Linked DNA regions of Homo sapiens. The protein of the gene in region 1 interacts with the protein of each later gene in a biochemical or structural test. Each region holds a gene or a part of one and is shown in the gene's direction. Other genes may lie near its edges. The genes, in order: CLDN2, GRID2IP, PDZK1, PATJ, GRIP2, PALS2 and ARHGEF11.

Region 1 (5,088 bases):
ATGATTTCTGGTTTGCTTCACTGAGTTCACCCTAGGCAACAAATCCGACTGTTTGCTTTGATATGACTTGAAAAATAGAGTCAAGCATAATGACTATGAGGCAAGCTCTAGAGGTGGCCAGGTTTGGTACCCAGGCCTTGCTCTGTACTAGCACAGTGAGACCATGGATAGGAAACACCTCAGCACAGTGCCTGGCACCTAGCAAGTGTTCAATGAACCGTGGCCTTATCATTTGTACATGGGAATCCTTGGGAGGGAGTTGGTGTTGTACACTGCAAAGTTTGCCAAGCTAGATATCTACAGACCTAGATTCCAAGTCTAACTATTACTGCTCAACTTGGGATGTTGGGCAACTCTTTTCATCTCATTGGGCCGAGGTTTCCTCATCTGGAAATAGTAATGGCTGTCTTATTTTTGTAACATGTTGTATTGGCCTTTAAAACATGCACACTCTTTCACCTAGCAATTCTATTCTTAAGACTTTGTCAGTATTATGTGCAAAGATGCTGGGTTATAGTGAAAATGAAAATAACAAAACGTCTAGTAGTTTACGATTAAATAAATCATATTTTATATGATAGAATGCAGTGCAGCCATGACAGAATGATGTAGTTCTGTGTTTTAATTGACATGGAAATAGGTCCACGATATGTTATTTACAAATGATGTAAGGTTACATAAACTGTAGGTATAGTGTGATTCAATTTTATAAAACAAATCCCATCGATATCTTCTACAATACATCAAAATGTTAGCAATGATTATTTCTGGCTGGTGGCATTATGAGGACCTCTATTTTCTTCTTTATAATTCATTTTCTGAATTCTTTTCAATAGCATCTAGTATTTTTCTACTTAGAAAAAACTAGAAAGCTTTTTTGCGTTGGGAGAGTAAAGCCAGTCACTGCGCTCTACTACTCCACAGCATGTTTTTTTGTTTGTTTGTTTTGGTTTGGTTTTATTTCTGTTGTTGTTTGGGTTTTTGTTTGTTTGCTTTGCTTTTTTGAGATGGAGTCTCACTCTGTCACCCAGGCTGGAGTGCAGTGGTATGATCTCGGCTCATTGCAACCTCCGCCTCCTGGGTCCAAGTGATTCTCCTGCCTCAGCTTCCCGTGTAGCTGGGACTACAGGTGCGCACCACCACATCCAGCTAATTTTTGTATTTTTAGTAGAGACAAGGTTTAACCGCGTTGGCCAGGCTGTTTTCGAACTCCTGACCTCAGGTGATCCACCCGCCTCGGCCTCCCAAAGTGCTGGGATTACAGGCGTGAGCCACTGCACACGGCCTTCACAGCACTTTTGAGAGGCTTAAATGACATAGTGCATGGCACTGCCATGTGTGGTAAAAAGGAGAGCCCTGTCCTTATGCTGGCCTACTCAGTTCCACCTTGTAGGACCTGCTCTTTGAACTCAGAGTCTGAACCTACAGTACCCATGTTTGCCCTTGAGCCTTGGGACCAACCTTAGGGGTGGGGTAGGGCTGAGGGCCTGCCAGAGAATCAAGCTGAGTAGAAAAGTCTATGGAGCTGCAGGCCATGCAGGGCTGCTTGGGCACTGGCTCACCAGGGCTGTGTTTATGCAGCTTACTCCCTGCTGGGCTTCAGGGCTGCTAGCCAGGGACACCTAATTGGTGGGACAGAGCCCCCTCCTCTCACCACCCTCAAAGCTGGAATGTTCTGAATTCCTTCTTGGGCCAAATCCCCCTCCCCACAAGGCCTCTCCTGGGTTCACAGAGGTCACCACACAAAAGCCCAGCTGGAGTGGAGTTTTTGACAGAAAAAAAAAAACACACACAGAAAACCCACCAAACCTTTTTTTTTTTTTTTCTAAAGTGCCTCAATCTTTCCCAGCCTCCAGGGGTTTAATTCTGATCTGTAATAAGTCTCTGACCCACGGCTCAGATTTGCAGATGGATTTTGCAAAGCTGTGGTTAACGATTAGAAATCCTTTATCACCTCAGCCCGTGGCCCCTTGTACTTCGCTCCCCTCCCTCAGGATCCCTTTCTCCCTCTCCAGGGGCATCTCCCCCTCCAAGGCTCTGCAAAGAACTGCCCTGTAAGTATCTCCATCCTGATATAGTTGCTGCCTTTTAAATTCACCGAGGTGGGCACTCTTCCTTCCTAGTCACTATCCATTCACCCCATGGTGGAGCCAGGCTGGGCCACCTTGGGTTTCTGAGTGAAGGGTATGGGAGGGGAAACTCCGGTGGCATTTGGGTTGGTGGTATTTGTTCCCTCAAAGCTATCACAAAGGTTCAAATCTTTAAAACTTCAGGACCAGAGAAAGCACTCTCCAAATCAGATATTTTCTGGTTTGGGGGCTTAAAAGGACTGGGATAAAAATTGGAGGAAGGGAGCCACAGTTTACCCCTCTGCCTAAGTGTAGGGGACTGAGGAGTGGCAGAAGGGGCACTCCCTCACAGCCAGCTCCAGTGCCCTCCTTGGCATGAAGGCTCAGGGAGGTAGCAGAAGGTGGGTTCCTAAGTGAAGTCATAAAGTTTCCCCATGAGGTCCTTCAAGGACTCTCCCTCACTGGTCTGCAAGTCTGTCATTAGAAATTCCTTCTTTCGACTGAGGTATTACTCTCTTCAAGTGCCCTCTTTGAAAATGCAGTTGGAACCAAAACATTCACAGCACTTATGGCCGGGGAGATCGTAGGCGATTTTTGTTTTCTAAATTCTGCCTTTCTGTGTTTTCCAGTGTTCTAAAGTGAGAATGCTTTACTTTGATGATCAGGACAAAAATCAACTTCTTTTTCAAACAATAAGAAAATCTCTCAATCCAGTTGCAATTCTCTGAACTGCCATCAATCAATTGATGTAGAAGGAAAGATGAACTGCTCTAAGGACAAACTTTCAAGAAAGTAGGGCCTCAAGGGAATGGCTTTGCCACCTACTAGTGCCCTTGGCAGCTGGAAGTGAGTTTCAGAGAAGGGGGCAAGTGTCTCAGATTCTTATGAGGGGCAGTGAGATCAAGGGATATAGAAATGAGGCTGACTGACAGAAGAGGGCTGTGGTGGCCATCATCACCCCCAGAAGGCCACATCAGTTCCTTCCTTGAGCCTGGGAACCCCAAGTGCCCTGTCCCATGTAGTCTTAGGAGGGTACTGCCAAAGAAAGAGTACCATGCACAAGACTCTTGGAGCAAGAGATGGGGAGAATAGCAGGGAAAGTACCTAGGTGAGAAGGGGTTAAGTCAGGAGCTGCGGTCAATCTTGACCCTCCTAATCCTCTCCTGCAGCTCCAATCTCCCCACTAGGGAAGATTAAGTAAGGATCCTAAGTTAAACTTTCTTGCCCAGTCCTTGGGCCATGGAGTATGTTGGCCCTATGCCCAGAAGACAAATTCAGCTGACAAGGCCTAGAGTCCTCTGTACCTCCAACGCAGCCAGTACTTGACTTCTAGGAGGATCCCTCAAAGAGAGGCTTCTATTAAAACTGGCTGCTTCTAATAACAGCTCTTCAGTCTTCTATATTTGTCAAAGTGGCTTCCTGTCCCCATGCCTTTATTTGAGACTAAAAATCTTGGAGATGACAAACTAGGGCCTAGAGAAGCTATAGGACTTCCTCAGCAGGTTCTAGGCAGAACTGACACAACAAGAAGCTAGATCTTTTGATTCTAACACCAGGACCCTGTCTGCCCTCACCTCTACTGCTCATCAGACAAACAAAAACCTGGCTGAATCCAGCCTGTCTCACCACCCAACCATTCGCCATTTAGCTGGTCTTCCTAACTCTGGTGGAAAGCTGAACCCCCCCTCCATGGGGCCATTTCTATCACTTGAATAAGCTCCAATAACTTGTTCTTCCTCCTGCCTGGGCATGCTGCTATGCCAAGTCAGACTCTAGAGATTCCAAGCCTCAGTAATGGCATTTTCTTGACTCTGCCCTCTCCCTCACCCCAAAACACTTGCCTACTTACTACTACTTAGGACAGGCTCTGGGGAGAGGCTTTCCTCTTGGGGACACTGTTGATTCCCTTGGGAAACTCAAGCTTGACTCTTCAGCTGCCATCCCAGGAAGGCTGAAGCAGGAGCTGCTCCTCTGGGAAGCAGTAGGTCTTCCCCTTGAAAACCTCAAGGTATCTCACCAATTCTCACTGAAAGCTCAGATACAAATAGGAGGAAGAAAGGAAAAGTATTGAACCCAGCCTGGGTGAGGAGCAGGGAGGGCCCAAGGATGGTTTCAAGGCAAGGATGCATCCTCAAAGATGATTTGCAATTATCCAAGCAAATGGTGGATGGTAGAATAGCATGCTTACGGGCTTGGAGACAGAGAGAAAGGCAGTCAGAGAAATTCAAGTGCTTAGGTTTGGCTGGATCATATGTGTATGTATAGGAGCATAAAGCATGAGGTTGGAGGTTAATGGTGTGAGATGAGGCTGTGAAGAAAAGCCGGGGTGAAATAATGGAGGGCTTTCTTGGTTTCCTGGGCTAGCAAGTTTGAACTTCATCCTGAAATACTTAAGAGCTCTGAAGATTTTTTTTTTTTTTTTTTTTTGAGACAAAGTTTTGCTCTATCGCTCAGGCTGGAGTGCAGTGGCACAATCTCGGCTCACTGCAACCTCCACCTCCCGGTTCCAGCGATTCTCCTGCCTCAGCCTCCCTAGTAGCTGGGATTACAGGCACATGCCACCACGCCCAACTAATTTTTGTATTTTTCGTAGAGACGGGGTTTCACTATGTTGGCCAGGCTGGTCTCAAACTCCTGACCTCGTGATCTGCCCGCCTCGGCCTCCCAAAGTGCTGGGATTATAGGCGTAAGCCACCGCACCCGGCTGAGCTCCTGAAGATTTTTAAGCATGGCAAAGCGTGAGGTGAAAGTCACAATTTGATTTCAACTTTACAAAGATCTTTGACTACTGGGTAGGTAATTCATTATTGCAGGATTGGGGCAGAAGTGGAATTAGAGAGATCAATTTGAGGTGTCTATGAGATTTTCAAATAGACAAGAAACGATGGTTGCATAGTCTGAACTATGGTTTAGGGCAGTGGCGACAGAAAGAAGTAGATGGATTCACAGTCTATTTTTGAAGGCAGACCTGATGGTACATTATAATTAATTATATGTCAACAAGAGGTGAAAAAGCAAG
Region 2 (4,289 bases), on another chromosome or scaffold:
CCCCTCCAGGCCCCAGCCCAGCAGTCACCACAGGTAGGGCTCCAGCCTCTGTCATCTACTGTCTGGGTGTTTCCCTCCACCCCAGGCTCAGCCCTGGAGCTGCTTCTCTGCTCCATCAGGGTCAGGGTTGTCCCAGTCCCTCCCATGGCCCTGTGACCCTCACCTCAGCTGTGGATCAAGAAAGTAGCCTGGGTACCGTGGGTCGTGCCTGTAATCCCAGCACTTTGGGAGGCCGAGGCAGGAGGATCAATGGAGCCCAGGAGTTTGAGACCAGCCTGGCAACATAGTGAGGCCCCATCTCTAACAAAAAAAATACAAAATTAGCTGGGCATGGTTGCATATGCCTGTAGTCCCAACTCCTCAAGAGGCTGAGGCGGGAGGATCACTTGAGCCCAGGAGTTCAAGGCTGCAGTGAGCTATTTCGAACCACTGCACTCTAGCCTATAAGCAACAGAGTAAGACCCTGTCTTAAAAAAGAAAAAGAAAGAAGGCAGATGCCTGATTCTGAGGAAGTCCCCGAGTTAGCAAGTGGTTATTGGATAAATGATCAAGTGCAACGCGTTGTACCAGCGTTGGCACAGCTGGGAAGACAGTTGCTCTGCAGCTCAGAAGGCAGGAGCCCTGGGAGGCCCTCCTGTGATCTCAGGGCTTGCTGGGTGCGCGAGACGCTCCATGACTGTGGCTCTGGGCCCTAGAGAAACCCCTCCACCCTTTGAGTTAATGGTGTTCAGTGGCTCCCAGCTGGGACCCCTGGTGACCATTCCAAGGTGAGCTGGCGTCCAGCCTGTCCTGAGGCCGAGCAGTGCTCCTGCTCACCAGATCTGGCCTTTAGTCATGCTTGGAAGGCAGGGCCGCTCAAGGTCTTCCTGCACTGTGCCCAGAGAGGGAAAGGAGAGTGGCCTGGGACACAGAGCCAGTCTGTCCTAGGACCCTCTCTCCAGCTTGCACCTGGAACCTCGGTGCTGGCTGAAGAGGAATCCTCATACTCCATCCCTCCTCCAGGGCCCAGGACCCTGTCCGGCGTCTCATGGCCCAGCGAGCGACTCTTGCCCTCCCCCTGCTACCACCCGCTGTGTTCGGGGGGTCTGGCCTCCCCCAGCAGCTCTGAGTCCCACCCCTACGCCAGCCTGGACAGCAGCAGGGCACCCTCCCCACAGCCAGGCCCCGGGCCCATCTGCCCCGACAGCCCCCCAAGCCCGGACCCCACCCGCCCGCCCAGCCGCAGGAAGCTCTTCACCTTCTCCCACCCTGTGCGAAGCCGCGATACTGACCGCTTCCTGGACGTGCTGAGCGAGCAGCTGGGCCCCCGGGTCACCATCGTGGATGATTTCCTGACCCCGGAGAACGACTACGAGGAGGTGGGCACGCAAGCAGGTGTGGAGGGAGGCGGGTGAGGCGAGGTGTGGCGGTCTGCAAGGCAACAGTGTTCCTGGGCTCCCGCAAGGGGCCTGCTGCCCTTGGGATCTTCCCCAGGCTATCCCACTCCCTAGCTCAAGCTATCCCACCCCTTGCCCCAGGTTACCCTATCTCCTGTTCAAGGTTATCATGCTCCTTGACTGAGGCTAGCCCATATTCCCTGTCGCAGGTTAGCCCATTCCTTAGCTCAGGCTATCCCACTCACAGCCTGAGGCTAACCCGTGACAGGGTCCTGTCCTTATTCCAGGCTATCCCCCTCACAGCCTGAGGCTTACCCATGAGAGGGTCCTATCCTTAGCCCAGGCTATCCCCCTCACAGCCTGAGGTTAACCTGTGAGACAGTCCTATCCTTAGCCCAGGTGTCCCTCACAGCCTGAGGCTAACCCGTGAGATGGCCCTGTCCTTGTCCCAGGCTATCCCATGATCCTTCACTTTGCACCTGCTCTAGTCTCTCTGGGCCCAGCCTCACCCTCCCCTTGCCTCTCTCCCCACCACCAGATGAGCTTCCATGATGACCAGGGCAGCTTCGTAACCAATGAGCGGAGCAGCGCCAGCGACTGCATCAGCAGCAGTGAAGAAGGCAGCTCCCTGACCTACTCCTCCATCTCTGACCACATCCCCCCACCCCCGCTCAGCCCCCCACCACCGCCACCCCTGCCTTTCCATGACGCTAAGCCCAGCTCCCGCAGCTCTGATGGTTCCCGGGGCCCTGCTCAGGCGCTGGCCAAGCCCCTCACCCAACTCAGCCACCCAGTCCCTCCACCACCCCCACCGCCCCTGCCCCCACCCGTGCCCTGTGCACCCCCCATGCTGTCCCGGGGCCTGGGCCACCGGCGCAGTGAGACCAGCCACATGAGCGTCAAGCGCTTGCGGTGGGAACAGGTGGAGAACTCAGAAGGCACCATCTGGGGTCAGGTAGGTGACCTGGGACCCAGCAGCGCTCTGTACTGGGGGAGGATGGCTTGGGCAGCAGCACTGAAGGAAAACCCATCGGCCAGGCATCTTCCAACATCATCCTCCCTACCCCAAGCAGAGGATGAGTAGAGGCCCAGCCCAAGAACGTCCCCACGCTTGGGGGCCACTGCAGGCATTGAAGCCAATCTGTGTCCCTCAGCCAAAGACACACACTGGGGACACCTGGAAATGCCACCCTACCCATCCTTGAAACCTATCACTTTTGAGGCCAGACAAGTTCTCTTAAACCTTTAAAAGAGCAGCTGGTTCAAACTCCTGCACACCAGCCTTCACCCTTTCACTTTGATGCTTGAAGTTCCTCCCTCACAACACTGGCAGTGTATGCTTGAACACCTTCAGTGGTGGGGAACTCACTACCTGTCAAGGTCTTCCTTTCCTCACTGGACGATTTTAACCATCCTTTGTCTTGCTCTGAAATCTTGTCTCCCCAGGATTCCCATGCCCTGTTTTCTTTCTGGCCCTTAAAATCGGGCAGAGCAATCTTATCCACAGACCAACCAATCTGCAAGATGAACAAGGTTCACCCCACCCCTTTTTTTTTTTTTCAGATCATTCTCTTAGAACATGGTTTCCAACCCCCACTCCAGTGTCCATGTCCCTGTCAAAGAGACATTCCCAGATGGAACCCCCAATGGGGCTTGACCAGCTCAGAGGAGAGAACAGGGTTCTCAGCTCCTTTGACTGGGACATCATACTCCTTTTAATATGGCAGGGGCTCCTTCCAGCTCCCAGGGCTGCCCCGTCCCAGTGCTCATGATCACCATCATCCTCAACTCCATCTTCTTGGGATCAATAGCTCACTCTCACATGTAGTCACACTGGGCAGAGGCATGCTTGTGATTTTTCCCCACTGCCATCTCCTGGGTCCCAATTCTGTCTCCTGCTTTCTCAGCCCACATCTCCAGGGACCCTTTCCAAGTTGCTAATAAAGATGCCCATTGAGGCCAGGCTTGGTGGTTCACGCCTGTAATCCCAGCACTTTGGGAGGCTGAGGCGGGAGGACTGCTTGAGCCTAAGAGTTCAAGACAAGTCTGGGCAACATAGTGAGATCTTGTCTCTACAAAAAAATCAAAAAGTTAGCCAGACCTGGTGGTGCATGCCTGTGGTCCCAGCTACTCGGGAGGCTGAAGAGGGAGAATCACTTGATTCCCACAGGTGGAGGTTGCAGTGAGCCAAGATGGCACCACTGCACTCCAGCCTGGGGTACAGAGTGAGACCCTATCTAAAAAAAAAAAAAAAAAAATACCTCAGTGAGACAAGGGCACAAATAAGGACCTCCTGGGTCCCCTGGAGACCTCACTCCTGCCAGCCTTGGACCGATCTTCAAGTATTGCTCCACAGCGTGGTTCTTCCATTGGTTACCAAAGGTGGACACAGGGACACAGGTCACACATGTGGCCAAACCCAAATCCATCCTCAGTGTCCCTGCCCTGCAGCCATGTTCTAAGACTTCATTCCCCTGCCTGCCCTCCCTTTGGGTTCTCTCCCTTTGGCAGCCACCCCGTCCGCACTCCCTGCCCCAGCCCCAGGCTGTTACCTCTCATCTATGCCATTCATCACAGCCACGTGTCCAGCGTCTGGCCCCTAGGCTGTCACAGTTGCAGTTCTCTCAGCACCAGCTCACTCTGCCCAGGGCAGCCCTGGTGAACTCACCGCTCTCCAAGGAGACCTGATGACAGAGCCAGACCCCTGAGCCACCTCCGGTAGCCCCTTACTTGGCTCTAGCCTCTTCACAGCTCCTTCATGCCCCCGCTGCAGTCCCACCTTGCTGGCTTCTGCACGAGTAGTGTTCCAAGTCTTGAGTCTCGATTGACCCCAGGAGGCGCTGGCTCAGCACCCGGTGACTCGGATGATCTGGCTTCTCCTGCAGTCTCCTCCTGCTCCGGGCTTTATCCCAG
Region 3 (3,731 bases), on another chromosome or scaffold:
TTACATGTAAGAAGGAGCACACTTTTTTTTTTTTTTTTTGAGACGTTGTCTTGCTCTGTCACCAGGCTGGAGTGCAGTGGTGCCATCTCAGCTCACTGCAATCTCCACCTCCCGGGTTCAAGCGATTCCCCTGCCTCAGCCTCCTGAGTAGCTGGAATTACAGGTGCGCACCACCATGCCCAGCTAATTTTTTGTATTTTAGTAGTTTTACCATGTTGGCCAGGATGGTCTCGATCTCCTGACCTTGTGATCCGCCCGCCTCGGCCTCCCAAAGTGCTGGGATTACAGGTATAAGCCAACACGCCCGGGCCACACATTTTTTTTAAGGTGTCCTATGGGGCACAACAGGACCAGAGAAGCCATAGGGAGCTAGCTTTTGGCTTAAGAACCAACTGAAGCTGCCAGAAATGATGAGTCATTTTGCAGTTGGTGGAAAGTCAAGCAGAAATCAGAGGCGGCTGCTGCAGCTGTTTGTTGTAAAGGGGATTCTGACCCCTCCTGATCTTATCATAGAATGATTTAATTGTAATTTTTCTGTTTTGGTTAATAGAGAACTTTGATCGAAAAAGAAGCCTGCCCTCATCATCTCCTTCCCCGCTCTCCAAAGTAAGCCCTGTAGGTTGGGGTGGAGGGTAGATCTTTGAGATACATCAGTGAGTAAAACACAACCCTCTAGCAGTCCCTGGCACATACTAGACACCCAATTATCTGAATGAAGCATGAATAAAATCTCATTTTTTTTTTTTGAGACAGAGTCTCCCGCTGTTGTCCAAGCTGGAGTGCAATGGTATGTTCTCAGCTCACTGGAACCTCTGCCTCCCAGGTTCAAGTGAGTCTCCTGCCTCAGTCTCTCAAGTAGCTGGGACTACAGGTGTGTGCTACCACACCTGGCTAATTTTTATATTTTTAGTAGAGAATGAGGTTTCACCATTTTGGCCAGGCTGGTCTCGAACTCCTGACCTCAAGTGATCCGCCCACCTTGTACTCCCAAAGTGCTGGGATTTCAGGCATGAGCCACCAAGCCCGGCCAAAATCTCAAGTGTTTTAATGTTATTGCACTTTGCCTCGAGATGAGCTGCGACTGTCAGATACAGTTGATTTGCTTGTTTGGGTAGTGTTATCAGACGTATTTTTGCATGTAATGAGTCACCTGATAATTTTCCATATTTTAAAGAGAAAGGCTCCATTGTGGAACTGTTGCAAGTATATGACTGAAAGGTCTGAAGTTAGTTGAACTGGGTAACTAGGAGGTTCTGTGCTGGTGGTATTCTCACTTAGAAAGGAAGGAGATGTGGTCTTGTGGTTAGTAAGACACATGATAACCAGAGGACTAAAAATCTAATTTTAGTCAGGCTGCTAAACAGTGCGATTTGAAGTAGAGCCCACACTGTGCTCACCTTCCATTGCTTGATTTCCTACTCATCACCTAACAAATGTTCCGGACACGTGTGGGCAGCCATTTAGCTGCTGATCCAGGATCACACCATACCCAGGTCCACCCTTCTAATTGTCTCAACTAAAACAGCCAGTTAGGCTTGTAATTCTATTACAAAAAAATCAATCCTGTTTCCTGTTCTATGCCTCTTCGGTATTCAAGATCATCATTTCTTTACATGGATGGTCTGGGAGTTGATATGAATTAGGAGTATTTAAAGATGTTGGAGAGTTTGGCATAATAGAAGTGACAGCTAATGCTTACAACAATACATAGCAAAATAAATAAGCACAGATCCCAGGTCTGGAAGGGGAGGGTATTGGCAAGCAGCAAAGGGTTGGAATTAACTTTTGTTACAATATGTGACCATATAACAGCTGTCACCCTCTCACCAATTATTCCTGTGTATATGGGTTGGTCTCTTCTAGTAGCTTTGAATCTTTGGATAGTGATAAAAATAGTGTTATATTAACATTCTCCAGAGAGACAGATCTAGTAGGATATAGATACAGGTATGAGAGGAGATTAATTAGGGGAATTGGCTTGTATGATTATGGAGGCTGAGAAGCCCCACGACAGGCTGTCTTCAAGCTTGAGACCCTGGGATGCCAGTAGTGTGGCTCCGTCCAAATCTGACTGAGCCACATTACTGGCATCACCCCTGATTGGCAGTCCTACTTGTTTGCTTCTGTGCATTTGGCCTGAGAATCTGGGGGGCTGCGGCTGTAGATCTTAGAGTCCAAAGGCCGGAGAACCAGGAATTCTGATGTCCAAGCACAGGAGAGGAAGAGGGTATCCCAGCTCTAGCAGACAGACTGACACCTTTGCCTTTTCTGTAGTTCACTCAGACTCGCATGCTAATCCCCTCTGGAACCACCTTCACAGACACACACCAAAATAATGCTTTGCCGGGCTTCTAGGTATTCCTTAATCCAGTCAAGTTGGCATCTAAAATTAACTATCACAAGTGTCTTGTGTTTTACTTTTTCTAATGTGTTTAAGGAGCTCTGAAGACCATCTTACCGAAAGGAAAAGCCAGAAGAATGTACTCTGCATGAGGTACCGGCTAGTCGGTCAGATATGTCATTTCCCAACAGGGAGATTATGTATAGCTTGTTCAGTGACTTGCTCACTATCATGAACTCACTCAAAAGAAACTAGCAATTTTTTAGACTTCTTTTGGGATCCTTGTACCGCATCCTATACTGCTTTTATGTTCATGTGTGCATTTGTGTACATGTATACACATATTACTCCATAACGAAGCACAGTCTTCTTTTATACCTTTCCTGGTTGGGGTAGTAGAGGAATTTTACAGCCTACAATCAGACACATCCAGAAGAAGAGTGGAATATGTATGATACCTTAAAAATCAGCACATTTAACAAAGTATAACTTACTCATGGTTACAACTAAGTTAATGTTTTTTCCCTTTATTTTTCAAAAGGCTCATTTTTCTCCATTTCTCTACTATCAAAGTCAAGAACTGCCCAATGGCTCTGTCAAGGAGGCTCCAGCTCCTACTCCCACTTCTCTGGAAGTCTCAAGTCCACCAGATACTACAGAGGAAGTAGATCATAAGCCTAAACTCTGCAGGCTGGCTAAAGGTGAAAATGGCTATGGCTTTCACTTAAATGCGATTCGGGGTCTGCCAGGCTCATTCATCAAAGAGGTATGGTAATCTGGTTCCAGCAGCCCAACAAACACAGCCACAATTAGGATAGTCTCAGCTTTTCCCACCCATTGATGGCTTAGTAGAGAGGTTCCATTGAAGGCACACACTGAGGGGTCTCACTTGGGTTCAGATAAATGTTGTCATGGTCCCACACCCTTTAGGTTAGCTACCAGTACATCATAAGCTCACGTTTGTTTGTTTCCCAAACATCTGTTCCAAACAGTGTGAGTTGACTGAACTCTAGTTGACAGTCACTATCAACCCTGATTGGCAGTCATATTTGTTTGCTTCTGTGCATTTGGCATAATGCCCCTTACCCTGTAGGGACTGATAAGAATCCCTAAAGCTTTCAAGTTGGGAGTGAAGAAGGGGGACCTATTTATCCCCCTTCATCCCAGAAGACATATGATGCTGAACCACTATTTATAATACCACTAATCATGTGAATATGGAAGTTATAGCCTTCATAAATATAAAAGCATTAGAACACCTTTCTCAACTTCTATACCTCAAGGAGAAATAATAACATGATTAAAAATAAATTCTTGAGCTCCTCATCTATTCTCTTAAGGAGAGCTAGTCTGATGTCCCCTTCTCTGTTTGAAATTGATAACTCAGAAC
Region 4 (4,289 bases), on another chromosome or scaffold:
GTAGGGAAACCCAGCAATGCCTATCTGTTCAGATTTTTCTTGGCCTCTCTCTGTAGCATTCCTTCCTCCAGGGTATGGGCAGGACCCCTTCTTATGGGGGTCTTATGACCTACAATCAGACAAGGGAGATCAGATAATTTTTTTAAATATTTATTTATTTATTTATTTTGAGACAGAGTCTTGCTCCGCTGCCCAGGCTGGAGTGCAGTGGGTGATCTCAGCTCACTGCAACCTCCACTTCCCGGGTTCAAGTGATTGTCCTGCCTCAGACTCCTGAGTAGCTGGGATTACAGACATGTGCCACCATACCTGGCTAATTTTTGTATTTTTAGTAGAGACAGGGTTTTACCATATTGGCCAGGCTGGTCTCGAACTCCTGACCTCAAGTGATCCACCTGTCTTGGCCTCCCAAAGTGCTGGGATTACAGGCGTGAGTCACTGCACCTAGCCAAAATTATTTTACTTTATTTTATTTTAATTAATTAATTTATTTATTTGGAGACGGAGTCTTGCTCTGTTGCCCAGGCTGGAGTGCAATGGCGCTGTCTTGGCTCACTACAACCTCTGCCTCCCAGGGTCAAGCGCTTCTCTTGCCTCAGCTTCCCAAGTAGCTGGGATTACAGGCGCCTGCCACCACACCTGTCTAATTTTTATATTTTTAGTAGAGATGGGGTTTCACCATGCTGGCCAGGCTGGTCTCGAACTCCTGACCTCAGGCGATCCACCCGCCTTGGACTCCCAAAGTGCTGGGATTACAGGCGTGAACCACCGGGCCTGGCAATTATTTTTTTTTTTAAAAATTTTTATTCATTTATTTTATTTATTTATTTTTGAGACAGAGCCTTACTCTGTTGCCCAGGCTGAAGTGCAGTGCCGCGATCTCCACCCACTGCAAACTTCACCTCCCTGGGTTCAAGCGATTGTCCTGGCTCAGCGTCACAACCTCAGGTGTGCGCCACCACCACTGGGTAATATATATATATATATTTTGTATTTTTAGTAGAGACAGGGTTTTGCCATGTTGGCCAGGCTGGTCTCGGACTCCTGACCTCAAGAGATCTGCCCGACTTGGCCTCCCAAAGTGCCAGGATTACGGATGTGAGCCATCACGCCTGGCCTCTTTTAAAAAATTTTTAGTAGAGACTGTGTCTCGTTATATTGCTCAGGCTGGTCTCGAACTCCTGGTCCAAGCCGTCCTCCCGATTTGGCCTGTGAAAGTGTTGGGCTTACAGGCGTGAGCCACCCTTCTGGCCCAGAGAATTTCTTTACAGCCACCTTCAAGATGGAAAAGCAGGGGAAGATTAGAGTCCTGCCTTGGGGAGAAAAAGGAGCGAATGAAAGGAGGGGCAGGAGAGTGTCAGAGATATTTCTGGGGACTGCTTCTGAGACTTAAAGCACCCCAACAGTATAATAAAAGACTGTAACAAGAGTTATGGGAGTTATAAACCAGGAATCATGGATGAAAACCAATATGCAATATCACAAGGTCACATAAAATGGGTTTCCCATCAGAAAAATAGTTGTGTTTGAAGCTGAATAGAAAATTAAGCTCTATTCTGCATTTAATGAAACCGTAATAAGTTTAAGCCATACATTAATATTTCTGTAACTATAAAGCTAACATATTCATTGTAGAAAAATTGGAGAAAATTTTCAAAAAAGAAACTAAAAGTACACAGACTACTATTGAGAGATAACCACTAATAACATTAGGATGTATTTTCTTTCAGATTGCATTTTTAAAGTTAAAGAGAAAAATCTGTATATATGTTCTCATAGTGAATTCACATTTAGAACCTTGTGATTCTGAGACAATGACTCAGCATTTTCTAGTTCTTACAATTGCATTTTTACTTAACAGCATTTAATAATTATCCTTACACTGAGGAGCCAGCAGGCTGAATTTACTTGCTTTGTTAAAGTTTAACAAGAATATATTAGGTTGGGGAAGCCAAAGTGGGATTTAATTTGTTCACTTAAGACTTTGCTCCCCTTGGTGAGCCAACTTGGTAAGTTTTTTGAGAAACGGGACCAATCTACCTTGGTATTTGCATGACCATTGCTATGTTTTCTTCCTTAGGGTTTTGTGTAGATTTGGATGCCTTTTTTAAAGCCCTTATTTTAGGTTCCGGTGCAAATGGGGAGAAATTTAGTGCCTGTCAATACCCTTCCTTTTAAGTCAGTGGGATAGATCGATGCTGAAGATGTAGAGCTCACTTATTTTTTGTGTTCGTACAGCTGTCCAGCCAGTAAAGTTTGGAGACAAGGAATTGGGTCCACCTACCATATAACGCTTGACAAGTCATTTAATTCTGGTCCTCCAGAATCTGGTCCCATTTGCAAATGGTCTGCCTTACAGAGATTTGGCGAGGTTGAAAGAAAAGAATGTTCAAGAATGTGTCTTGTAATCTGTAAGCTGTTATTCTCCTGCTTTTTGTTCCTCCCTTATGTTTAATTCCGGTAAAATTATGGAGTTGTGATCTTTTTATTGGGAAGAACTCAAGTTTGTGAGTGCTCTTACTCAGATAGTTACTTTAAGAAAAGGCATAGAGACCATATGAGCTGAACTGATGAAGTCTTTCCTAAAAACACGGTGGAGGAAGAAAAAACAAAACCAAACAGGGATCTTTCTGGAAAGGCATAGATTAAAACTTTACTACAGTAAGCCACTCTCACACGTGGGCATGGGCCACTTTATATTGGGTTAGTTAGGATTGAAATGTGCTGTAAATGCACAATACACACAAGATTTTGAACAGATTTCATGTAAAAAGGAATCTAAAATATCTTATTAATTTTTATTTTTTGAGACACAGTTTCACTCTGTTGCGAAGGCTGGAGCCGCCTCCTGGGTTCAAGTGATTCTCGTGCCTCAGTCTCCCAAGTAGCTGGGATTACAGGCGTGCGCCACCACACCCTGCTAATTTTTGCATTTTTAGTAGAGACGGGGTTTCACCATGTTGCTCAGGCTGGTCTCTAACTTCTGACCTCGTGATCCACCCGCCTCGGCCTCCCAAAGTGCTGGAATTACAAGTGTGAGCCACTGATCTGAATATGTTTATTCTTAAGAGGGTTTAGTTTACCAAAGCACTTACACTGCTATGTGTATACTGCCTTAATGCCTTTTTTTTTTTTTTTTTTTTTTTTTTTGAGACGAGTCTTGCTCTTTTGCCCATGCTGGAGTGCAGTGGCTTGATCTCCGCTCACTCCAACCTCTGCCTCCCAGGTTCAAGCCATTCTCCTGCCTCAGCCTCCTGAGTTGCTAGGACTGCAGGCATGCACCACCACGTCTGGCTAATTTTTTGTATTTTTAGTACAGACGGGGTTTCACCATGTTGGCCAGGCTGGTCTCGAACTCCTGACCTCAAGTGATACGCCCGCCTCAGCCTCCCAAAGTGCTGTGATTACAGGCGTGAGCCACTGCGCCTGGCCATGTAAATGGATTAATACTCCAAATTATAGGTCCTCTCTATAACCTCCTCCCTTATACTCACTACAGTGGTGAAACATTTTATTTTTCAGTCTTCTCAGAACTAACTTACTGATTACACACTAAAATCTCTGCTACAATAATTTAATTATTAGCTTTTGCAGTGCCATGATCATGGTTCACTAGCCCTGACCCCCTGGGCACAAGGGTTCCTCCCACCTCAGCCTGGACTACAGGCACGCACCGGCACGCACCACCACGCTCAGCTAGTTTTTGTTTTTGTAGAGATGGGGTTTTGCCATGTTTTAAATCATTTTGATTGAAAAGAGATGCTAATAGTAGTTATCATTTGTTGAATGTGTACCATGTGCTAGGCCAAATGCTCTAAATTATCCTCTTTAGTGTTTGCAGTATACATATGAAGTAATTTTTTTTTTCTTTTTTTTCTCCTGAGATGGAGTTGCCCAGGCTGCAGTGCTGTGGCACCATCTTGGCTCACTGCAACCTCCATCTCCTGGGTTCAAGCAATTCTTCTGCCTCAGCCTCCCAAGTAGCTGGGATTCAGGTGCCCGCCACCACGCCCAGCTATTTTTTTTTTTTTTTTAAACAGAGTTTTGCTCTTGTTGCATTTTTATTAGAGACAGGGGTTTCACCATGTTGGCCAGGCTGGTCTCGAACTCCTGACCTCGTGATCCACCCGCCTCAGCCTCTGAAAGTGCTGGGATTGCAGGCGTGAGCCACCACACCCAGCCATGAAGTAATTTTTATTAACTCTTTTTTACAAACAAGGGGACTGAGGTGTAGGGAGATTTAAACAATTGGCCTACAGAGCGGGTCCTAGGGATAAACCCTGAGTCTC
Region 5 (4,831 bases), on another chromosome or scaffold:
CCAGATTTAGAACCTGGATTATTCTAAAGGTGCCACTAGCGTTGGGCTGGCAGGAGCCAGTGTGGGGCGGCCCAGGAATTGTGGCTAAATTCCATGCTGGGGTCACTGTTCTGGAGGGAACCCACAAGAAACCTCGGGTCCCTAACTACCGGGCAGCCCTCTCCCACTAGCTGCAGGGCACATGGAAGAAATATGAGGCTCGTGTGTTCCCACGCGGTCAGGAACTCCATGGGAGCCAGGCCTTGTCTGTCTGGTTCTCTGTTGCCAGACGCACTGTGCAGTTGTACAGGTTGTTGACATCCACCATTCAGTGCCCTGTCACCATCACCCCACCCTTCTTGGTGTCTGACCCTCAGTTGGTGCCAGCACACACTGGTGGGATGGAGGGCAGGGGAAATTGGGTGCAGCCTGCCACCCCTTCTCACAGACAGGTAGAGGAGGAGCCTCAGGTGTCCATTAAGATCAGCCTGGTCAGTCCTGAGCCAATGTGGAGGAATCCCAGGAGTGTGCAAGGCTAAGGCCCAGCTGGGTCTGGGACGGGGCAGAGCCTGCCAGGTGTGGCTGGAGCCTGTGACCAACTGGCCCTGCCTATCAAGCCCAGAGGCGGGCAGATCCTCCACCCAGCTCACTTGGTCTTCACAAAAAGCTGGGTGGCCACTCCACGTGGCAGGCTGCCGGGTTCATCTTTCCTAAGTCCCATTTTACCGAGGGAAAACTGATACCTAGGAGAGGTAGTTGGAACATTGGTGGGAGGGCCCTGGAGGGTCTCCAAGCTCAAGGGTTTCTAAGCTGAGACCTACAGAGACGCCCTGGCATTGTTCATGCAGTCAAAGAGTCTGTGCTTCATCTAGCTTATGTCCTGGGGTTCTGTGCAAATTCTCTTGGAATCTGCCGTTTAGAAAAAAAAAAAGTTTGGAAAGCACTGTTCCCTGTCTCCAGATGAAAAAACTGATGCCTAGTGAGGGAAGAGTCGTTTGCCAAAGTCCCAGGGCAAGTTAGAAGCAGGCTCTCTCTCTGCCTGAGAGCCCTGGGGGAAGCCCCAGGCATGCCACCTTCAAAGACCCCCTGTCCAGACCCAGGCTGCAGGGGTGGGGCATGTTGGACCCTGTCCTGGAGCCAGCCTTGACAATAGCCATGTCCCCTTTAAGCAGAGAGCCGCCCGCTGCAGTGGGTGGACTCGGTGCCCAGCCAGTGGGAGCTGTGAGCTTCCCTCCCACAGCCCCTCCCTGGGGAGGGGAGGGAGGGCCAAGCAGCGTGGCTCCCGAGGGAGTTGGTGGGCAGCAGGGGAGACAATAGCGAACATGCTGTGTGGGCTCAGCCGGGAGACCCCTGGAGAGGCGGGTACGTAATGGGGGGTCTGTGGGCAGAGTGATGGGGCTGAACACATAGATCCCTCTGGAGCTGCTGCCCAGAGAGAGGGGACTGGATGGCTGAGACCTGGGACTGCCACTCCCTGGAGACCCAGGGCTTGGGGAGGGTGGGGCAGGACACTTGCTGGGGCTGTCTGTCTGACCCTGGCCACTGTCCTGTAGCAGGATGGCTGAGCCTCCCCCAGGGCTGTCCAGCACAGGCAGGCAGAACAGGCGGGTCTGGAGGTTCCGAGGGCAGTGCTCAGCCTTGTAGGGGGAAGGCTGGTCCTATCTGGGTGTGAGCGAAGCCTTTTGCCCAATCTCAGGATCTGCACAGCTGCCTGGTGGGAGTGAGTGTCCGACCCAGAGGGGTGAGAGCCCAAGGCCCATGGGCAAGGTGGTGGTGAGGAGTTCCTGTGCTGGCACAGCTGGGCAGGAGACTGGTTCTCGGCAGGAGGAGAAACTCTGGTTTGGGGGTCTGACTGGTGAGCCCCTGGGGCTCTGGGAATGTGTGGGATGGGGGATCACAGCTGCCACATTCCTGGGTGTGCTGAGGCTGGGACCCAGGGGAGGGGCAGACACGATTGTTCCATCTGTCTCTCCAGCCTCAGCCTGGGCTCACCCTATTCCTCCAAAGAGGGAGCTTGGGGCCTGGACCAGAACATACTGCATTCACTGCCCTGGGGTTGCCTCACTGGTTTCTTCCCACGCTCTTGACATATCTTTGCACCACAGCTCCAAGGGCAAGGACTGTGGTCCCAGTGGACAGAGGAGGAAACCAAGGCTCAGGGAGGGCAGTGGCCGAGCTGGGATTGACACCCCGATGACTTTTACTGCAGAGCCCCCAGCCCTGCTTCTGAGGGCCCAGTGGACTTTGATTCCCACCTCCCTTCCCATGGCAAGGAGCAGAGCCAGGTCACCTCTGGACCCAGCCTTAGCGACCCAGGAAAAATAACACTCATAATCATAATAGCTGGCTGTTGTCGAGAGCTTCCTCTGGGCCAGGCTCTTTTCTAAGCTTTCTGTGCATTTTCTCATTTAATCCTCATAACTACACTGCCACTTGGGTACTGTTATTCTCTCCATTTTGCAGTTGGGGAAACTGAGGCAGAGAGCTGCTAAGTGACTTGTTCAGGGTTATATAGCCAGAAGTGACAAAGCTGGGATTTGACCCGATGGGCCCACCCATCCTTGGCAACTGCACTGTAAATGGAGGCTCTGCCTTCTTGGCCTGGACACATCTGTTCTTTCAACCCAAGGCCCAGGTGAGTGGGGTCACCTTGGTCTGCTGTGGTCAGGGCCACAAAGGCAGCAGTGCCCTGGAGACCTTACCTGGGGCACTGCCAGGGAGGTGTCTCCCCCTCCTCATGGGCCTGTGACCTCCACCTCGGCCCAGGGTCAGCATCAACTGCCTGGGCCTTTGCCCAGTCTCCTCCCTGGCCTGGCCTCCACCCCTTTGCTGCCATGGGAGGAAGCTTGCCAAAACACAAATCTGCTCAGCTCCTAAGCCTTGCATTCAAGGCCCTTCCTGACCTCTCTGACATTTTCTCTCTCTGATGACTTACTTGACCTCTACCCTCACCACTGTAGCCTCCACCCTAGGTCTCCTCCCCAGGTCACAGAACCTCATGATCACACTTGCTTCAGTTTGCATCAGCACCAAGGCTCTTCTTCCAAAAAGTGTAAAGATGGAGCTTCAGGCACAGTGGGATCCAGATGCTCAATTAACATCATTAGGACTCTGGGTCTCTTCGTAGCTTGCTCTGCTTCACTTTAGTGAGCTTCATTTCCAGGCAGACTCTCTCCTCTCCTTGAGAGTTCCTGGCACCTTCAAACTTAAGGTCAACCAGCTCAGTCATCCCTAAGGAAAGAGAGCCTATTTCCAGTAGTTCCAGCAAATGCCCCAGAAACGGCTCTCATTGGTCCAACTTGTATCACATGCCCACCCCTGATGGATCGCTGAGCCTCTGATTGGCCAGGCCTGGTCATGTGACCTCCCCTGTTGCTGGTAAGGACAGCCATATACCTCCACATTTGGCACAGAAGACTGCAGCCCTGAGAAGTCAGCCCACTGGCAGTGTGCGTCAGTGAGTGCCCCGATTGGAGCTGGGCTCTGTGGACCAGGCAGCCCTATGCCCTTTCTCTGCTCCTGATGGACTCTGGGTGGGTCCCTTCTCAGGCCCCACACCCTGGGCATGTCGTCTCACTCCAGGGAGTCTTGCTTTCCTGTCACTAACCCCAGAGTTCTGGCAGGAAGGGACTGTGACCTATCTCCATTGGCCCAGGCTGGGGCACACAGTAGGCCTGAACACAGATTTTGGCAGGAAGTCCCTCTCCATGTTCACTCTCCTGCCTTGAGGACGGGAGGCCTGCTCTGACTCCGCAGCCACAAAGACATCTTTGTTCCAGGCCTGCTAGGTCTGAGCAGGCACTTGCTGCCATGCTGGGGGCAGGGAAGTCTCAGTGGGTGTGGGTGTACATGTGTGAAGGTCCCCCTGCTGTGCCCTGGGCTACCCACTCCTCCGAGGGGCCCTCACCAGGCCTACCCCTTGGCTCTGAGACTCCTCAGGCAGGCCTGGCCTCCTACTCCACAGCAGGGGCTGTGGCCATGGGGGATCCTTCGCCTGAGTTTGCGTCCTGGCTCTGTCTCTTCCTAGTCTCTGACCTTGAGAAACTCATTCCACCTCTTTGATTCTCATTCTCCTAATCTGTAAATGGGAATTGAATTAAAAAAATATTTGCTGAGCATGTACTACATGCCAGACAATGTGTGCGCTGCACACAGCAGTGAGCAGGCAGACAGAAGCCCGGCCCCCTGGAGCTGACATCCCAGTAAAAATAGTCGTAAATATTTAGATGGTGTTGATTGCCCAGAGGAACATGAAGCAGGGAGGGAGTGGAGAGGAGGTGTGGAGGTACAGGGTGCGTGTGTAAGTTCCAACAGGCGGATGGGGAAGGCCTCCCTGAGGAGGTGACATTTCTACAAGTTCCCGAAGGAGCTGAGACGGGAGTTTTGATGATGTCTGGGGAAGAGTTTTGTGGGCAGAGGGAACAGCCGATGCAAAGGCCCTAGGGGGATGTGAGTCTGGTGGGCCTTGGGTCGAAAGGACAGATGTGTCCAGGAAGGCTTCACCTCCCTTTAGAGTGCAGTTGCCAAGGTGGGGTGGGCCCATAGGGTCAAATCTCCGCTTTGTCACTTCTGGCTGTGTAACCAGGAACAAGTCACTTAGCATCTCCATGCCTCAGTTTTCCCAGCTGTAAAATGGGGAGAATAACAGTGCCCAAGTGGCAGTGTGGTTATGAGGATTAAGTGAGAAAATGCAGTGTGCTGGAGTGGAGCTGGCCAGGGCGAGCATCAGGAGGTGAAGTCAGGGGACCGGGGACTGACAGTTGTGGTGAGGACTTCTGCTTCTACTCTCCCTGAGCTAGACACAGTCTTCTTGTGACTGCAGGCAGCCGCCATTGGGAAACTGAATGGTTCT
Region 6 (4,289 bases), on another chromosome or scaffold:
ATTGAAGGAGCTTAGCTTATCACCTTTTTATAGACCCAGTTCATAATTCTTATGTTTTTGGAAGAAATCTTTTATAAAAAGTGATTTTCAATTTCATTTGATAAATCTACTTAGAATATTTATTAGAATAGGCAATAGAGCAATTTTTTATAAATCTTGGTTTATTGTATAGCATATTAATGGAACTTTTTCATAGTTGCTTTGTTCTGTAGGATATTATTAGATATTAGTTGGGTAGGATTAATATTTTTAAAAGATAGAATAGGGCAGCTGGAGATATGTGGGACTTTTAAAGAAAAATGTATGAGAAAGTGTGGGGAAAATGATTCTCTGAGCAGACTGGGGGCCATATGCTTAGGAAAGGAAAAGTGAAAGGTGAGGGATTCGTTTAGAGAAATTCTGTGGTGGAACTCAGAGGGGTACATGTTGGGAGAAGTTTTAACTTAGGAAAATACTAAGCTGATTTACTTAAATGCATATTTCAAGGATAAATACTTTATATTTTGTTCTGTAGGTCATTTTTACCATGAAGTGACTCTGGCAGGGATTCTTTACCTAAGTGGGCATCAGAATCCTTTGGAGCTATCCTACGCTAAAGGATTCTAATTTAGTAGGTCTGGTATGGGGCAGGAGCATGTTTATATTGTTAAAATCCCCAGGAGCCACCATTTGAGTGTAAAATAATACATCCTGTGGAATATTCCATTTTAATAATGAAATCATTCAACAAAGCTTTTGAGGTTGTATATAATTTAGGTAACTCTAATGCTGGAACTTGGTCTCTCACCAGGTCAATACTTCTGCACATACCTCATTGATCCCCATTGCTTTACTCTCTTGCATACTCTTCCCTCCTCTGCCTTCTTGTTTCTTTTCTACTAATGAATATTCAGGCATGGTTCTCCAAGGAAGCCATCATTAGGTGGCCTCATCCATAATTTATCTTTTCAGTACAGAACAAATTATAACACAGTGCTTATACAACTGGCAAGTACACTCATCACATGAGTAGATGATTTATGTGTTTTCGTTCACATGAGCCTTGAACAAATATACCCAGTTTTACTAGTTGAGCTTCCTTGTTTTTTCTTCTTGCTATCAAGAGGTTGGCGTTTAGTCATAGTTAATGCTGATGTAAACATTTGATAATATTATAGATACCACCATGTTTCAAGGTCTATGTTAAATGCTCTCCACACATTATCTCATCTGCTTGTTGCAGATTTTAAAATTATGTTTTTTAAGTCACTAAAATCTTTTTATGATTGTATTAGTTTTCTGTGACTGCTGTGACAAATTGCCACAGACTTAGTGGCTTATAAATAAATGTATTCTCTTACGATTCTGAAGGCCAGACATTTGAAATCAGTATAATTGGGCCAAAATCAAGGTGTCAACAGGGACATTTTTCCTCCAAAGAATCTAAGGGAGAACTTACTTGTTGCCTTTTCCAGTTTCTGGTGGCTTCTGGCATTCCTTGGCTTGCGGCTACACACTGCAGTCTTCAAGGCTGGCATTTGAAATCTTTCAGCTCTGTGTCTTTCATTTCCCCACGTGTGTGTGTGTGTGTGTGTGTGTGTGTGTGTGTGTGTGTGTGTGTCAGAGAGAAAGGGAAATCTCCCTCTGTGAAGGACACTTGTGAAGGCATTTAGTGCTCTCTGGAATAACCTCCCCATCACAAGATCTTTAATCACACCTGTGAAACTTTCCAAATGCGGTGACATTCATAGGTGTCAGGAATTAAGACATAGATATCTTGTGGAGGGGGAGACTATTATTCAGCCTACCATAATGGTAATTTAAATAGTTCAGAAAAGGGAGGAGGAGTTGATAAGTCTTTTTGTCCCATCTTCATCACTTTCTAAGTCAGTATTTCTCAATCAGGGATGATTTTGCTGAACAATCTCCAGGAATATTTGGCTGTCACAACTGGGAAGGTGTTGCTACTACTATGTATAAGGTATAGGTCAGGGATGCTGCAAACAGTGCACAGGGCAGCCCCCCTCAACAAGGAGTCATCCAGCCCAAAATGTCAGTAGTGATGAAGCCGAGAAACGTTATTCTAAAGGCAACTATTGCCAATAGCTTTTTTGGGGTATCCAGAAAAAATTTTGATGCCTCTATTACGAGTAAAAGCCTTTAATCTGATTTGATCAGAACGGGTGGTAGTTTTGGCTGACTGAAAGTGATTTAAGTGAAGAGTCATAAACGATTGACACATATCTTAAATAATATATTACTTAAAAATCTACATTCATGTGTCAGTCTTTTCTTTAAGTATGTGTCTTTTGCCAGGAACTCTGGGTCATCATTCTTATATAAGCCAATGCATTATCACTGATTACCAGCTTTGGAGTGAGAACTTAAAAGTTTGTGAAGCAGTCTGCATATAAGATCTAGATTTCTAATGTTTTATGACTCCTCAATTGTTTATACTTGTTTTACCCTTAATTTTACAGCAGTTTATCATTTTGTTTTGTTGTTTTGTCACTTGCTTTTTTGGGGTCTTCCCAAAGCATCAACTGATTTTCATATAAAGAATATAACTCCCATCATCTTGTATCAAATACAGCATATGATGCATATAAAGAAAATGAAATCCTATTTTGTAATAATGGCTTGCTAAGGAATTGGGAATACTAATTCTAGTCGCAGCTCATTTGAACAGCATCCAATCTGGTGATATGGTGAGGGCTAATGTCAGTTGTTTACAAATTCTTGAATGTTTCAGAACATTTTGTTTTAGTTCTGTAATGGCAGAGTTTATAAATAATCTATAGAATATTACTATAAATACTTTATTGGTATTACCAGCTTAGTGCTTGCGTTACTTTTCTAAAAGAAACATTGATTTTTTTTTCATTAACTGTAATAAATATTATTTGAAGTTTGAATGTGGCTATCTTTGAGTGGATTTGTCTTCTTTTTATTTACTAGAATATGTATGTCTATATGCACATAATAAAATGTTATATGGAAAACCTAACTTTAGTTACATAAATAAAAAATTATTTGCTTTTTTTATTCCTCTTTTAATATCCTTCTATCTTCTATCCTTGTATAAGGAGCTAGAAGGTATAAGAAACTCCAATAATTGGGTTTCTTATAAAGAGCTTTGATATAAGAAACTCAGATAATTGAGTAAAGAAGTTTAATTTATTAAAGTTGCTTATTTTTGAAATGATAGTCATGCTTTTTTTTTTTTTTTTTTTTTTTTTTGAGACAGAGTCTTGCTCTGTCACCCAGGCTGCTAGAGTGCAGTGGCGTGATCTCGGCTCACTGCAACCTCTGCCTCCCGGATTCAAGTGATTCTCCTGCCTCAGCTTCCTGAGTGGCTGGGATTACAGATGTGTGCCACCACGCCCAGCTAATTTTTGTATTTTTAGTAGAGAGGGTTTCACCATGTTGGCCAGGATGGTCCTGAACTCCTGACCTCGTGATCTGCCTGCCTTGGCCTCCCAAAGTGCTGGGATTACAAGCGTGAGCCACCGTGCCTGGAAATCATTCATATTTTTATACAAATCAATTTAAATGTTTTTTATTTTTTAGCTAGTAATCTTTTGGAATGGAGGTCAGTAAAAAAAAATGTAAGCCCTATTTTTAAAAGGTTGGACTATCTTGTGAGACAAAGTAGTCTCAGTTTGCCATCACCAACCAATCCTTAGCATTAAGCTCTTGAAAACAACTAGGTAGAGAAATTTTCCGTGAAGGAATTTAATGATCTTTATAAAGTTTTACTATTCACCCAATTAAAATGTTAGATTATCATTTTATGCTATTCAATTTGGAAATACCAGATACTATACAATTAGTTTCCATTCACCATTACTTTCTTGAAAGAAACTTTTCACGACTTTCAATAAGGTCCCCTGCCCCCAAATAAAGTGGTTATAAATCCTAGGAGGCATTTTTGAGGATATCTTATTCAGATCCTTTCTTTTTTTTTTTTTCCCATGCTAAATATTTATTTAATTTTTTTTTTTATTATACTTTAAGTTTTAGGGTACATGTGCACATTGTGCAGGTTAGTTACATATGTATACATGTGCCATGCTGGTGTGCTGCACCCACTAACTTGTCATCTAGCATTAGGTATATCTCCCAATGCTATCCCTCCCCTCTCCCCCGACCCCACCACAGTCCCCAGAGTGTGATATTCCCCTTCCTGTGTCCATGTGATCTCATTGTTCAGTTCCCACCTATGAGTGAGAATATGCGGTGTTTGGTTTTTTGTTCTCACGATAGTTTACTGAGAATGATGATTTCCAATTTCATCCATGTCCCTACAA
Region 7 (3,500 bases), on another chromosome or scaffold:
GGAGGAGGCGGTGAGCCTTCCTGGGTTGATGTGAGACACTCCTGGGGGTTTGGATATCCTCATAGATAAAAATCTCAGGATTTGCCCAGCACATTACAGTTTCCTAAGTGCTTTCGTAGAACATATCTCATTTGAATCTCACAGTGGTTCTGTGTGAGGTAGACAGAAGCATCAGAGGTTATTATTCATGTTTCACAGAAGGGGAAACTGAGGCTCAGAGAGGCTACCTGGCTTGCCCAGTGCCATCTTGCCTGGCTAGTGGCAGAATCTGGACTCAAAGACTCAAACACAGGTCTTCTGAGTCTGAATCTGTAGCTCTTTCATTGCCCCATCATGTCTAACTAGGCTTCTGTACTGGTCCTGTAGAATGTGTGGGGCACCGTTTTCTCCTTTCTCTTTGGTAGTAGGGTAAAGTGCCCGTCAGCAGTCAAGGTCTTCCCTTCTACTTTTCTGTCTTGGGGCTCCTACCTTGGGGGTTCAGTCTTGGGGCTCATACCTGTAAGTCCTATAGTTAAAGCACTATTTTCTCTTGTAAGATAGTGCAGCTTTGCAGGGTAAGGGTATTCCTCACCTCCACCCTGCCTGATTCTCTTCCCCATTAAGAGTGGTAGGACTCAGATCCCCTTCAGACATCCCCAGCTAGCTGCACTGAATCTTACTCCCTTAACTGTAGGCTTATTCAATTGTAACTTTGGGCAACATCAGCCTCAAGACTCTATGGATTTTAAATAATTTACAGATTTAAATCACACTGAAAGGAATAATACGCTGCGGATTATGGAGTCTAGTATTCTTTCAGTTTATCAGTTTGCTGTGTAGAGAGCCTAGTGTAAGGTGCTATAGGAGAGTTTTAGAAAATTAAGGTGTACAGTACTTGCTCACAGAGAGAGCATGCAACTGGGGGACTGGGAAACACGTAAGACTCTTGAAGACCACATAAAGCAACACCAGACTGTAAGCCCCTCACAAGCAGGGACAGTTTGGTTTGCCTGTATGAAATCCTGTGTGCCTAGCTTAGTGTCTTGCATGAGGTGAGTACTCAAGAAATGTTTGACAAATGAATGTTAGAGTGAATGAACAGATCAGCAAGTACAAATTATTTCATTGCGGGTTGTTTCAACATTCACGTGTTAATTTCAAATGTAGTCAAATAAGGTCAATTAGAGAAGGTTTCCTAGGTAATGTGTATTTTCTAGAAAATAAATGACATAATAAAGGACTATGTATTTGGAAAGAGATTGTAGCTGAGAGTAAGAAAATTTTGGAATATTTACTTGGCAGTCTTTCATCTCCTGTAGCACCCTGTTCAAGAGTGACTCCTGGGTCCATAGAAAGCATAAAGTATTTGCAACTATTCTTTATCTTTCAGTGTTAATCAGTTGTTACTGAAAGATGGGCTAAAGTGTAGCTGTTCATGTCCCTTTCAGTTTTTGTCCATGGGCAACTTACTGCCCATTAATATATATTCCTTTCAAGAGTTTCTAAAAATGTGTTTGCTATTGCAAACAGAGATAATGATACTAAATTATTTTTACAGGAGTGGTCATGAGTTTTGCTAAGCCATCTATATCTGTTAGCCTGGTTCCCCCATGGCAAATGTTTTTGAGATGGACAGGAGGGTTAGGGGTTTGCATCCATGAAACATCTTTCCTCTGCCCAAAGTTAGTTCATGTGAGGATCAAACCAAAGTACTTTAAGCCAAGAGTTTGTGGTTTGAGTCCTGGCTTTCCCCTTAACTATGTGACCTTGGGGAAGTCACATGCCTCCTCTGGCTTCCTCATGTAAAGCAGTAGTAGTTCATTTCTATAAAGTACAATCCAGTTCTCAAACATTTTTATATGGTGTGTCATTTGAGGATTATAATGTTTGTTTCATCTCTCTCACAAGCCTATTGAAAGGAGCAAATCAAACGAGATAATGTATTTCAAATTGTTTTCTAAACTGTAAACTCTATATAAATTATAGATGGTAAATTCACAGATTTGATTTAGCTTCGTGCACAACTTTCTGAGCTAAGTATCCCAAAACAAAACAAGGTGACTGAAATCTTTATATCATTTTGAAGAATTTAAGCAGAGTGAACTGGCTTTATTGTTGTAGAAGTGCATGGGGTCAGGAGGAAGGAGTATTTTTCCAATAGATAGGGTACTAGAAGAATGTGAGAAGAGAAGGGTTACTGAATCTCCTTCCCAGGAACTCTGATGAATGAGAGAGACTTCATCTACCTTGGCTCACCTTAAATGTCTGTTAGTGATGGGGATAGAAAGGATTTGTTCTGTGATCTCCAGCCATTCCTTGTCTTAAAAGCGTATGACTTTCCTAATTCAAAATAAATCTAGACCCAGCAACTGTTCTCTGTCAGGGGTCTCTTCGCACCTTGGCTTCTGGTCTTTATTGACTCCTGGGACCAAGAAGTCCCCAGACATTTAGCTGAGTTTCTACCTAGATTAGAAGGTTGGCCTCCCAGAATGGAGACAGGGATCCAGAGCTACGTATGATAAGTCCCGGAAATGCTGAGTCTTTTCCAAAATGTACCCTTGTTCCCATCTAGGGGTGTGAGATGAGAGACACAATGGATTTGCAGCTGAAACATTTGGCAATTAATCACCATTATGAGAAGGAGCAGACTAAGCTTAACTTCAGATACTCAAAAACATTTCTGAAAGAGTGCCCTTTTATTAATGTATTTGTTTAGCTTTTTTAATAGACAAGAAATAAGAAAAATTAAATGACAATACGAGTTCATCAAAAATAAAAAGATTTTGTGAACAGCACATAGCTAATCTCCTAGTTAGTATAAAGGTAAAGGAGTTCTGGAAGCTCACAGCCTCTGTGGAATGGAGTTTAGAAACTCTAGTTTGTATAGTGTTTCTTGCTGCTTTAATGTTCTGATAATCTGATGTTTGTGAAAAGGCTTTGTTAACTGTTGAGTTCTATAAACGTAAGAGGAGTTATTTTAATCTATATTGACTGAATCTGTTTCACCTCTTCATAGTAGCATTGCCTTTAAAAATTCATTTTTATTGGTTTATTATTTTTTAAGCTTAACTCAAAGATATATCACGTGGCTTGGAAACTCTTTTTGCTGTGGATTGTGGTGTTCCTTCTTTTGTCAATCACTATATTGATAAAAGACCCAAGCATACACCTGCTAGTGGCATGCAAGATCACTCCTTTGCCCCATGGGGTAAACCGTACTGAAGAAGTTGCTGATCCTGGTCTCAAAAAGAAAAAAGTATAACTTCATAAAAAGTCATGTTAGATCTTTTGTGAAAGGAGGTTTGGAGTTCTGAGGAAAGAACACAACATCTGAGTTAGTAGACGTGGATGATGGAGCCAGCTTTGTTAGCAGCTGGGTGAATGACCTTGCAAAGGTGCTTACCTGCCCTCGACCTCAGTTTGCTTATTTGGAAAAATGAGGGAATTAGGCTAGCCAGCCTCTAAGATTTGATTCCTTTTAGCTATTACGTTCTTTCAGCCTCTGAAACCAGAATGCTTTG

Evidence for each region.
Region 2: the proteins of CLDN2 (region 1) and GRID2IP interact in a test that uses a peptide from one of them, tested with the Homo sapiens proteins (one large-scale study listed by IntAct).
Region 3: the proteins of CLDN2 (region 1) and PDZK1 interact in a test that uses a peptide from one of them, tested with the Homo sapiens proteins (one large-scale study listed by IntAct).
Region 4: the proteins of CLDN2 (region 1) and PATJ interact in a test that uses a peptide from one of them, tested with the Homo sapiens proteins (one large-scale study listed by IntAct).
Region 5: the proteins of CLDN2 (region 1) and GRIP2 interact in a test that uses a peptide from one of them, tested with the Homo sapiens proteins (one large-scale study listed by IntAct).
Region 6: the proteins of CLDN2 (region 1) and PALS2 interact in a test that uses a peptide from one of them, tested with the Homo sapiens proteins (one large-scale study listed by IntAct).
Region 7: the proteins of CLDN2 (region 1) and ARHGEF11 interact in a test that uses a peptide from one of them, tested with the Homo sapiens proteins (one large-scale study listed by IntAct).

What each region holds. Positions count from the first base shown.
Region 1 is NC_000023.11:106,918,498-106,923,585, forward strand, and holds the start of CLDN2 (claudin-2), read left to right. Parts: upstream 1-1,904; 5' UTR 1,905-2,054; intron 2,055-5,088. UniProt on the Homo sapiens protein: Forms paracellular channels: polymerizes in tight junction strands with cation- and water-selective channels through the strands, conveying epithelial permeability in a process known as paracellular tight junction permeability.
Region 2 is NC_000007.14:6,506,027-6,510,315, reverse strand, and holds part of GRID2IP (delphilin), read left to right. Parts: coding exon 1-33; intron 34-163; exon of another isoform or gene 164-300; intron 301-1,002; coding exon 1,003-1,358; exon of another isoform or gene 1,359-1,410; intron 1,411-1,914; coding exon 1,915-2,331; intron 2,332-3,928; exon of another isoform or gene 3,929-4,289.
Region 3 is NC_000001.11:145,673,033-145,676,763, reverse strand, and holds part of PDZK1 (Na(+)/H(+) exchange regulatory cofactor NHE-RF3), read left to right. Parts: intron 1-550; coding exon of another isoform or gene 551-606; intron 607-2,437; coding exon of another isoform or gene 2,438-2,494; intron 2,495-2,882; coding exon 2,883-3,107; intron 3,108-3,731. UniProt on the Homo sapiens protein: A scaffold protein that connects plasma membrane proteins and regulatory components, regulating their surface expression in epithelial cells apical domains.
Region 4 is NC_000001.11:61,745,124-61,749,412, forward strand, and holds part of PATJ (inaD-like protein), read left to right. Parts: intron 1-1,975; exon of another isoform or gene 1,976-2,009; intron 2,010-4,289.
Region 5 is NC_000003.12:14,536,779-14,541,609, reverse strand, and holds the start of GRIP2 (glutamate receptor-interacting protein 2), read left to right. Parts: upstream 1-1,267; 5' UTR 1,268-1,301; coding exon 1,302-1,341; intron 1,342-4,831.
Region 6 is NC_000007.14:24,579,691-24,583,979, forward strand, and holds part of PALS2 (protein PALS2), read left to right. Parts: intron 1-4,289.
Region 7 is NC_000001.11:157,039,243-157,042,742, reverse strand, and holds part of ARHGEF11 (rho guanine nucleotide exchange factor 11), read left to right. Parts: intron 1-3,500. UniProt on the Homo sapiens protein: May play a role in the regulation of RhoA GTPase by guanine nucleotide-binding alpha-12 (GNA12) and alpha-13 (GNA13). Acts as guanine nucleotide exchange factor (GEF) for RhoA GTPase and may act as GTPase-activating protein (GAP) for GNA12 and GNA13.